Linked DNA regions of Homo sapiens: region 2 is linked to region 1. The links come from fine-mapping of genetic effects on gene expression. A gene starts in region 1. The other region holds a variant in brackets. All regions are shown on one strand. Distances are from middle to middle. Region 1 holds the start of GASK1A (golgi associated kinase 1A). Region 2 overlaps GASK1A (golgi associated kinase 1A).

The links. PIP is the estimated chance that this variant, and not a neighbour inherited with it, causes the effect. A credible set is the group of variants that fine-mapping cannot tell apart.
Region 2: its variant is the best candidate, but not a certain one, in a credible set for the expression of GASK1A in lung (TOPMed, PIP 0.55).

The regions. Positions count from the first base shown.
Region 1 is chr3:42,977,168-42,982,389 of GRCh38, forward strand. It overlaps GASK1A (golgi associated kinase 1A), which reads left to right and starts at 2,144. Exons shown (of 5, transcript NM_001129908.3): 1 at 2,144-2,478. The coding sequence starts at 2,476.
Region 2 is chr3:43,008,664-43,013,885 of GRCh38, forward strand. The region is part of intron 1 of GASK1A (golgi associated kinase 1A); the gene reads left to right. Among named protein-coding and RNA genes, the nearest start is that of GASK1A, 32 kb to the left of the region's middle. The variant G/A (reference allele first, on the strand shown) is at 2,592.

The DNA of each region.
Region 1 (5,222 bases):
GAGAAGGCTTCACTAAAGAGGTGACACTTGGGCAAAGACCTGAAGGAGATGAGGGAGCAAACCATGGGGATATCTGGGGCATTCTAGGGAGAGGGATAACAAGTGCAAAGGTCCTGAGGTGGGATCTTGCCTGTAATATGCAAGGGACAATAAGAAGGTGAGTGTGTCCTGGAGCACAGTGAGAGAGAGTGTGCAGAGATAATGTTAGAGAACCAATGAGGGCCAAAGTGTGAAAGGACTTGTAGGCCCCTGTAAGATGTGGCATGTTACACTGCAGGAGATTTGAAGCCTCTGGTAGGTTTTGAGCAGAGAAATGACAAAAATCTGATTTATGACTCTTTTCAAGTAATTCTTCTTAAAAGTAATTTTATTCATGTTATTAGGATGGACCAGGATATGCTATAACAACAAACAATTCTTTACAGCTTAGCCATGTTCTTGTGTGACATTTTATTTGGCTGGGCTAGATCCTGCAGCAGCTTTTCCCAAGTGTGTTCCATGAGTCATTGGAGCTGCTTCTTTTGAAAAACAGTTCTGCTTCCAGTAATCCTGGAAATACTGGGCACTCTCTTCCTGTCTAAGTTAGTGATTTGAGACCATCATTAAAAATACATAAAATTGGAATAGAATAGAAAATGTCAGAGTGCATCACATGAAGTAATGTTTTATAAAACAATCTTTTAGTTACATTTATACATATATGTTTAATATATATCTTGTGTGGGGTCACAGTCAGAAAATGAGACTCAAAAGATCACAGCGTCTCCCTAAACATCTAAATAAAACCCTGAATGGTTTGTACTGTCCTCCACCCTCTTCCCTCATTTCCCAACCAGGGCTCAAACTCTCTGTCCTTTCAGTAGTCCATATGCACAGACAAGCTGCAGTTTGCAGTGCTACATCCTGCCTCCTGTTCCTGCCATATCAAGTCTTCCTCTTTGTTTCATGTTCTGGCAAATAGACTTGGATTTGCTAAACTGTTTACTGGCGATCTGGTCTCAGGAAAGTTACTTCACCTCCCTAATCCTGACTTTCCTAATTTGCAAAAGTTTTCCTTTTAGGATCGTTTGTGGTTATTAAATGAAATAATGTACAGAAAGCATCTGGAATGTTAAGGACCGAATACTTTCCCTTCATCTGTTCCTCCTGCCCATACACACATACACAATTTAAGGGGACTCTCTGGATCTTTGCTTCCCTTTAGAAGCACTGCCATCAGTGATAACCTCAGATCATTCTGGGGCAGGAGACTGCTGGGAAGATGCCTGTCTTCATCTAGCTAATGATGCTTCCTGTTAGTTTCAGTACTGGAGGCTAATTTTTCAGCCTGGCCCCCAAATTCTCTCAGAGCACCCTACTGCTGACTCTGCCTCGCCTCCATCCATTGTCTACAGGCTCTTAATAATCCTGGGGTCCAAACATTGGGCCACTGGGGGACACAAGTCATAAAGACGTCTGGGGACTGGTCGATGGTCATCCAGCTGTTAATAGTGGGGCTAGCCCTGATTTTGGGACTACAGAACCCCTAAGCCCAGGACATTCCCCAACGGGGAACGGATAGACTCTCAGGTCTTGCTCTGACTGTGCCTTTGTTGGCAGTAGGTGACTCAGGGGACACAAAGGCACTGTCTGTGCATCCAAAGCAGAGAGGTATCAGCCACTTACTTCAGTGACTTTAACAGTGATTAGTTCTCAAGGACAAAAACTCTTCATTGTTAATTAGCTTAGTGGTCAACGGATTTTCCTTCCAAATCCTCTTGGGGACTGAACCCAAACAAGGCGAAGAAGTGACAGTAAAAAAAGACTTGTCCTTCTGACAAGCGACAGTAAAGAAAAAGACTTGTCCTGCTTGGCAGGAGAGGGTGGCAGTTTGGGCAACACTCAGCCATATTGCTGAGTTGCAGCGAACTCACCAAGCACCCTCACACCTTAGAGGCGTCCCTCACCGTCCAGCCTTGGTGCATCACCCGTCAGGCGGGCAGTCAGGGCGTAGACCTTTCCTTCCTAGCACCTGGGCCCCTACTCCAGAAGACCAGAAGACTGCGGCTGGCCGAGCCCCCGGCAGGGCTTTTATTGTGAAGGGAGCTTCCCCCTCCCGCGCTTTCAGGGGAATGGGGAAGCTGGGCCGGGACGCGCGGCAGGGACTTTGCAAACTCTGCAAAAGTCCCGAGTAGACCGCAGAGGCTCGCGGCCGCGGGTAGGCTCCCTCAGATCCCCGTAGATCTCAGTAGATCCGGCGTGTATTCCCCACCCGCGGAGTATCCCGGTGTGCAGCGATCTCCCGAGAGTTGGCGCAGGGCCACTTGGCTGCAGAGAACGTGTGCACCTTCAGTCCGGGAAACCCGCCCCAGCCGAGTAGCCGCGCATCCTGGGAAGCCTGGCGAGCCACGGCGCCGGGGGCGGCCAAGGGGAGGCGGGATGAGTCTGCGAGCCGGCTGAGCGCGCCGAGGAGCCGGCCGGGGCACCGCCGGGGACATGGTAGGACTCGCGGGAAGGAACGCGCGAGCGGAGGGTGGGGCGATCACCAGGACAGGTGGCTGCAGTCAACGCGCAGCGGCCCAGGGCGCGCGCAGCCTGCGCGGCCTCCCGAGGCCGGAGTTGTTCCCCGAAAGTTGCATGGGGCGGCGGCGGCTTTCATTTCTGCACCAGAGCTGGGGGCGATCGGCTTTCCTGCCGCTCTTAGTGGGGCGGACCGTAATAAGGGGGCTTTTATTACTAATCTGCACTCCTTGACCTAACCGTAACCCACTCGCAACTCTGCAATCTTCATGCAATCCACAAGGCAGGGAGAGGGGAGCGTTCCCTGGGGAACCCACGGCAGCCTCTGATGAGATGCTTTTGAAGTCATTTTAATACTCTCCAAAGTTCATGTGAATTTTATACTATCTTCTCTAATTTAGCTATGTATTGATATTAAAAATAATGTCCTAACGTTTATTAACATTTAATAACTAAATTAACATTGAGTTAAATTGGCTCTAGTAAGGTTCCAATCCGCCTTCCTCTACCTCCCCGACAGGAGGACTGTTGGGCAGATGTGGAAGCACTGGTGGGTCTGGGATGTCACGATGAAACCAGGATCTTGTGGACGTGGCCCTTCCATTGATCAACTTCACAGACACTAACAGGCAGAAAAGAAAAACCCATCGAGAATGTGGCCCAGGCGGCTTAGCTAAAGGACACATGCAACCCCAGGAAAGGGGCGTCCCTCAGGCCCGGCCGCTGGTTAGTTGCTCTGCTTCTCCCGCAGCAGAAAACCCCTGCAACCCCAACTGGGCTCCTGCAGTTCACTGGGCTCCCCTGGCTGCTTCCGTGCCTGCTCGCCTCTTCCCTTTCCTTCCAAGCTCACAGAAGGCAGATCGGAACCCACTGGAGATGCTTTGTGGGGAGTTTTGCTGGGCCTGGGGTTTAGAAGGCTGTCTAGAGACTGCGCTGTAGGATGGAGGGTCTCTGTGAGAACAGCTCCTTTGTGTGCAGGGGGGCCTGGCAGGTGGCTGGAACAGAGGTGGAGGGCTGGTCATAAGGAGCTGGGGGCTCAGGGAAGGGTACCTTTGAGGCTAGGGGTGTGTGTATGTTTCACCCCTCCTAACACCTATCCAGCTTCAGGTTTTTTCTCAAAGCTGCTAAGAGAAGGAAATAGTGGAATCTTAAGCTTCAAAAGGGGGAATGATTGGGGGTACAGGATGTGAAACGAAAAGTGTGGAGATATCCTATTACAAATTCCCTGTTTAGGAGCAAGAGTGTTACCAGAACTCAGGCCACAGCCATCCACTCCGAGGGGCATTAGCATGCTGGAGTCTCCTGGCTTTAAAGGCAAATGTAGCAGAGGCTCTGTGGTCTGCGGCTGAAGCAGAGTGCCTGGAGGAGAGATGGTACCTGCCTTCTGCTCAGGCTGCCTAGGGGAACATTGGTGTGTTTGCCCCACTGCCAGCGTAAGCTTCCCGTTCTGTGAGTCATTGCAGCTTCCCGGTTTCACGTCCCTGGCTCTGGGTTCTGGTATTGTGTTAGGAAGAGGACTTGTGTCAACATTTCACTGTCTCAGGGTTCACTTGCAGAGAGAGGGGCCTGATGGTCATCCTCTGGCAGTGAAATGGCCTTGGAGATCTGAAGGCTGTCCTTTGCTTCTCCATCTGAATGAAGGGTCTTGAGGTCCAGAGACCACAGGGCAGCCTGGCACTGGCTAGAAGCAGCATGGGAGGAGACAGGGGGCTAGGAATCCTTTGAGGACCTTAGTTTCCTCTTCTGTTAGATGAGAGATTGGACTAGATGTTATTCAAGGTGCCATTTAGCTCCAAAAATGGGTGATATGTGAATAATTTTGAGATTGGATCTCAATTCTAGTGTTGAGCTGTGCTTAGCATGAACAACTAAAAAGGTGTGGGGAAGAAGTGGTTCTCAGCCCTGACTCAGGCTGCCCCCATCCCCCAGCCCAAATCCAGATGAGACCCAGACCAAGGGATGTTTTCAGGCTCTGCAAGTGAGCCCAGTGTGCTGCCAGGGCTGAGAACCACAGGGCAAGAAGGCTGAGAGAACGGGAGAAAGCTGGGGCTCAAAGCTGCACTTCCCAAGATATCCCTATGTCCACAGAGTGGTCATTCCTTGAGATAGTCCTAAAATAGTTTTTGGGAAATGATAGATGCTATATCATTTCCCATTATATGATATCACATATATCACATGCTATATCTCTTTGAGGGTCCTTCCACAGAGTATTGTCTTTTAATTCATTACACTGAGATTTGAACTTGCCCAGCTTGTTTGAATACGGTATCCTTTATTCAGTATTTCCCTAATGCCATCCTATTATTGATCCAAGATACGTATGATGGGAAACTCTGGGTTAGAAGTATACAAATAAAAGTATAGAATCCTTAAATGTCCTTTTGAAAAAAAGAAAAAAGAAAAGAGCATTGAGCTGCAGTATCTGCGGGGGCATTTTTGATTATCCTGAGGAGTCAGGGGTCATTGCCATGGCTTGGTGTGTATTTTTCTAAAGCGAAGATTGGAACACTTGTCAGTTTCTTTCTTTGCAGTGGTGGTGGGAGGTTTGGTGTTTGCCAAGGACTCTGTACTTGATGAAAAATATTGATAGAATCAGATATATATGTGTTGGGTTAAAAATTAAAAAAGAAAAATATTGATAGAGAAAGTTGAAACTATTACTGCCAATTAAAAAATGTTTTCCTCCTGATTTTTGAGAAAAAATACACAACTTCTACAGG
Region 2 (5,222 bases), 31 kb after region 1:
AATGCTTTCGCCCTCACCAGGACTCTACAGGTGTGTACAGAGCAGCCATGCTTTAGAAGTCAACTGCACTTAGGAGCAGCAGAGCAGGGAGTCAGAGGTCACTCTTTTGGTCACTTGAGCAAGTGGTGGCTCTGAGGAGGCACGTTGGTATCAGTCCCTGAAACCTCTTCACACGCTTTCCTCTCAGTTATGGTTTGCCAGTGTTCAGAATGCTGTGACTGTAACTGTTACCAGCCCATCCACAGATGGAGAGAGTGCGGCATGGGGCAGTAACTTAAAGGAGGTGCTGGAGTTCCCAAGTACCTTGGAGATTTAATAATCATGAGATTTAATGATAATGCTAAGTAATAACTATAAAAATGTATGCAAGGCTCTGTTCTCAGCACTTTATATACATTAAAATATGTTGAATCCTCACAGCAACTCTTTGAGGGAGGAACCATTTTCATACTCATTTTTCAGATGCAGAAATTGATGTGAAGATATATGCTTATTAGGGCAAAGCTGGGGGGTTGGACCTAGAGAGTCCAGCTCCTGTGTATCCTTCAGCGCATCCTTCTAGATGTTGCCTTTCTGAAGTGAGTGTAAGTATTTGTTGAAAGATAACACAACTCATCATCTCCCATGTCTCAGCTGGTATCAGGAACCCCAGCCAATGTAATGAAGAGACGGATCCAGGTATTTCTCAGGTCTTTAAAATCCTTCTGCTAGCACTGCTTCCCCCAGGTTATCTGGGCGCATTGAAAATGCTTCTGGATAAACCCCTGATGGCCTGAGCTAATTCTTTCCCCCATGTGCCCTGAAGTCCCCAGGGCCAGAACTGGCTCCTGTGTGCTGGGAAGGGCTTGGTCTCTGCAGGCTGGAGGCCAGAGTTGGAATCTCAGCTCTTCTACTTAGATGGTGTGTCACCTTGAGCAAATTTTGAAGTCTCTTTTTCGAGTTCCTCAGCCATAAAATGGTATGATATTTCCTTCCTACCTGTTAGAGTCATTGTGAGAATATCTGGAGGCAACATCCTTCTAGCCATAACAGTGAAAAACATGTAACAAACTCATGGTGTCATCAGATGTTGGTGGAGACCTCAGGTGGTGGCACCCAGAACTGCTGTCCAGCATTCCATGCTTCACCAGCCCTGTCCCACAAGTTTGGAAAGATAAGTGGCCTGAACGTAGGCAAGGCTAGATTTGCCAGAATTGGCATGAGGGAAATTATTATATCATTACCTTTTCACTTGAGACAGTGAGTTGCTGGGGGGCAGGGGCCAAGCCTTCTTCGCACTGGTGTCCTTATTTCTTGGTCCAGTGCTTGGCATTAGGGGAGGTCAGAATAGAAGGATAAAATTGTAATGCAGCACAATTTTTCTGGGGAGCAACCTCACCCCTACACTGTTCCTTTGGAGGAAGCTGCCTCCTGCCCCAGGGTGCTCTGGATTCCCACACTGGTTCCCTGAGGGTCTCCAAAGTACGTGCCTAACATCATATGCCTTTCCCAGTATCCTTCACTCCCTGTTGTCTACCAGTCACATGTTGGGTTCCAGGCCGTTATATATAGCAACTCAGTACCTACAATAACAGAAACCACTCTGGTGAAGGAGGGAGTCTGAAAAGGTGAACTCGTACTCAGATATTACCCAGCCAGAGCCTTCTTCCTGCTAGGCCATACTCTTCAGTAGAACCCTAATGCTTTCAGGGCTTCTCAAGAAAGCCTAGTTCTTGAGGCTTTCTCAAATCCCCGAATTTGAGAAACACCATTATAGCATTTTATATTCTCCCATGAAATACAGTAGAGTGGGCTGCAAGAGTTAAATTTTCAATTTCTATCACTGTCCTTGAAAAATAATTTTTACCTTGGCTGAGGCCTTTGCTGAAACGATTTTTTGAATTGCTTTTCGTATTTCATGAGGGTGGAGAATTCATTTGGATTATAGATTTCTGCCATCTCTAAGTTTGACATTCCTTTCTTTCTTGCTTTAAAAGCTAATATTTTCTAGGTCTTGTCTCCCTGTGTACCACTTCCTCCCCACACCCATCCCAACTGAGAACCATCATTTTCTAAGGCTTCTTTTGGTTTTCATTCCTTCCCCAGCACTAGCTATTGCCATTTGTTCTCCAAGGAAGTTTCCATCACATAATAAGATTACAATATCCCTGATGTTATGCTATGGAAGCTAAGCAGCAGAACCTGGGCAGACAGCCATGGACACATGGATGGCTCCTCCTACCATATTTGCTTGAAGTAAATGAGATTCAGATCTGAGCCTCAGAGGAATTTCAAATTGCACCCTGCCATGGACCTTTAGCCTCTTACCTTCCCCAACTCCCCCCTCTCCACCCACCAACAAATCCATTAAGGTAAAATATCTATAGTGTTTTTAACTGTTCAAAATAGTTTTCTTCAAATGTGCCAAGAGGGCATTTGCTTAGGCAGATTAAGAAATGGGCCAGGCATGGTGACTCACGCCTGTAATCCCAACACTTTGGGAGGCCGAGGTGGGCAGATCACGAGGTCAGGAGATCAAGATCATCCTGGCCAACATGGTGAAACCCTGTCTCTACTAAAAATATAAAAATTAGCTGGGTGTGGTGGCGTGC[G/A]CCTGTAGTCCCAGCTACTTGAGAGGCTGAGGCAGGAGAATCACTTGAACCTGGAGGGCAGAGGTTGCAGTGAGCCGAGGTCGCACCACTGCACTCCAGCCTGGCGACAGAGTGAGACTCCATCTCAAAAAAAAAAAAAAAAAAAATGGTTAGGAGATCACAAGAGATTTTTATTGCAAATAGGAACCTTTTTCTGTATGTAAGAACCCACTGTGTGGGCTGTCATTTACAAGGCAGGGCTGGCTTCTAGGATTTAGCACACACTGAATTGCAGCAAGTCAAGGCTGTGTGAAGCCATGGGAAATGGCTGTGTGAAGTCACAGAAAGGGACAATGTGAAGTCACAGGAAGAAGCAGAGTGAAGTCACAGGAAGGAGCAGTGTGAAACAATAGGAAGGGGCTGGAAGATGTCATAAGAAGAAATTATGTGAAGTCACAGGAAGGGGCTGTGTGGAGCCAGAGAAAGGGGCTACGTGACATCACAGGAAGGAACTGTGTGAAGCCAAGGGAAGGGGCTGTGTGAAGTCACAGGAGGAGGCTGTGTGAAGCCACAGGGTCAGTATGAAGCCACAGGAAGAGGCAGTGTGACGTTAGGAAGGGGCTGTGTGAAGCCAAGGAAGGGGCTGTGTGAAGTCATAGGAAGGGGTAGTGTGAAGCCAGATAAAAGGGCAGTGTGAAGTCACAGGAAGCGGCAGTGTGAAGCCAAAGGAAGGAGCAGTGTGAAGCCAAATAAAGGGGCTGTGTGAAGTAACAGGGACAGTGTGAAGCCAAAGGAAGGGGCAATGTGAGGCCAAAGGAAGGGACAGTGTTGAGCCATAGGCAGGGGCTGTGTGAAGCCACAGGAAGGGGAATGGGAAGTCACAGGAAGGAGCAGTGGGAAGTCACAAAAAGGGACTGTGGAAAGTCACAGGAAGGGGCAGAGGGAAGTCACAGGAAGAGGCTGTGGGAAGCCATAGAAAGGGGCTGTTTGAAGCCACTGGAAGGGGCTTCTGAGGTCACAGGAAGGGGCAGTGTGAGGTCACAGGAAGGGGCTGTGTGAAGCCACTGGAAGTAGCTGTGTGAAGCCACTGGAAGGGGCAGTGTGAAGCCACTGAATGGGACAGTGTGAAGCCACAGGAAGGGGCTGTGTGATGTCACAAGTAGGGGCAGGGTGAACTTACAGGAAGTGGCTCTGTTAAGCCACAGGAAGGGGCAGTGTGAAGCCACAGGAAGGCACAGTGTGAAGTCACATGAAAGGGGCTGTGTGAAGTCACAGGAAGGGAAGTGGAAAGTCACATGAAGGGGCTATGTGAAGTCACAGGGAAGGGCAGTGTGGAGCCACAGGCAGTGTGAGGCCACAGGAAGGAGCTGTGTGAAGTCACAGGAAGGGAAGTGGAAAGTCACATGAAGGGGATATGTGAAGTCACAGGGAAGGGCAGTGTGGAGCCACAGGCAGTGTGAGGCCACAGGAAGGAGCTGTGTGAAGTCACAGGAAGGGAAGTGGAAAGTCACATGAAGGGGCTATGTGAAGTCACAGGGAAGGGCAGTGTGGAGCCACAGGCAGTGTGAGGCCACAGGAAGGAGCTGTGTGTAGCCACAGGAAGGGGCAGTGTGAAGTCACAGGAAGGGGCAATGGGGTCACAGGAAGGGGCTATGTGAAGTCAGAGAAAGGGGGGTTGTGTGAGGCCACAGGAAGAAGCAGTGTGAAGCCACAGGAAGGGGCTGTGTGAATCACAGGAAGAGGCAGTGTGAAGTTACAGAAGGGGCTTTGTGAAGCCACAGGAAGGGGCATGGGAAATCACGGGAATGAGCTGTGGGAAGTCACAGGGAGGGGCAGAGGGAAGTCACAGGAAGGGGCAGTGGAAAGTCACAAGAAGGAGTGTGTGAAGCCACTGAAAGGGGCAGTGTGAAGTCACAGGAAGGGGCAGTATGAGGTCACAGGAAGGGGCTGTGTGAAGTCACTGGAAGGGGCAGTGAGAAGTCACAGGGAGTGGCTGTGGGAAGTCACAGGAAGAGGCAATGTGAAGCCACAGGAATGGGCAGTGTGAAATCGCAGGTAGAGGCTCTGTGAATCCACAGGAAGGGGCAGTGAGAAGTCACAGAGGCAGTGTGAAGTCAAAGGAAGGGGCCGTGTGAAACCACAGCAAGGGGTGCTGTGAAGTCACAGGAAGGGGCAGTGTGAGGCCACAGGAATGGGCAGTAGGAAGTTACAAGAAGGTGCAGTGGGAAGTAACAGCAAGGGGCTGTGTCAAGTCACAGGAAGGGGCTGTGTGAAGCCACAGGAAGAGGCAGTGGGTAGTCACAGGAACAGGCATTGTGAAGCCACAGGGAGGGGTATTGTGAAGCCAAAGAAGTGGCAGTGTGAAGCAACAGGAAGGGACAGTGGGAAGTCACAGAAAGGGGCAGTGTGAGGCCACCAGAATGTGCAGTGGGAAGTTACAGGAAGGTGCTGTGTGAAGTCACAGGAAGGGGCTGTGGGAAGTCACAGGACAGGGTAGTGTGATATCACAGGAAGGAACTGGGTAAAGCCACTGGATGGGGCTACGTGAAGTCACAGGAAGTGGCTGTATGAACTCACACAAAGGGGCTAGGTGAGGTCAGAGGAAGTGGCAGTGTGAGTTCACAGGCAGGGGCTTTGTGAAACCACAGGAAG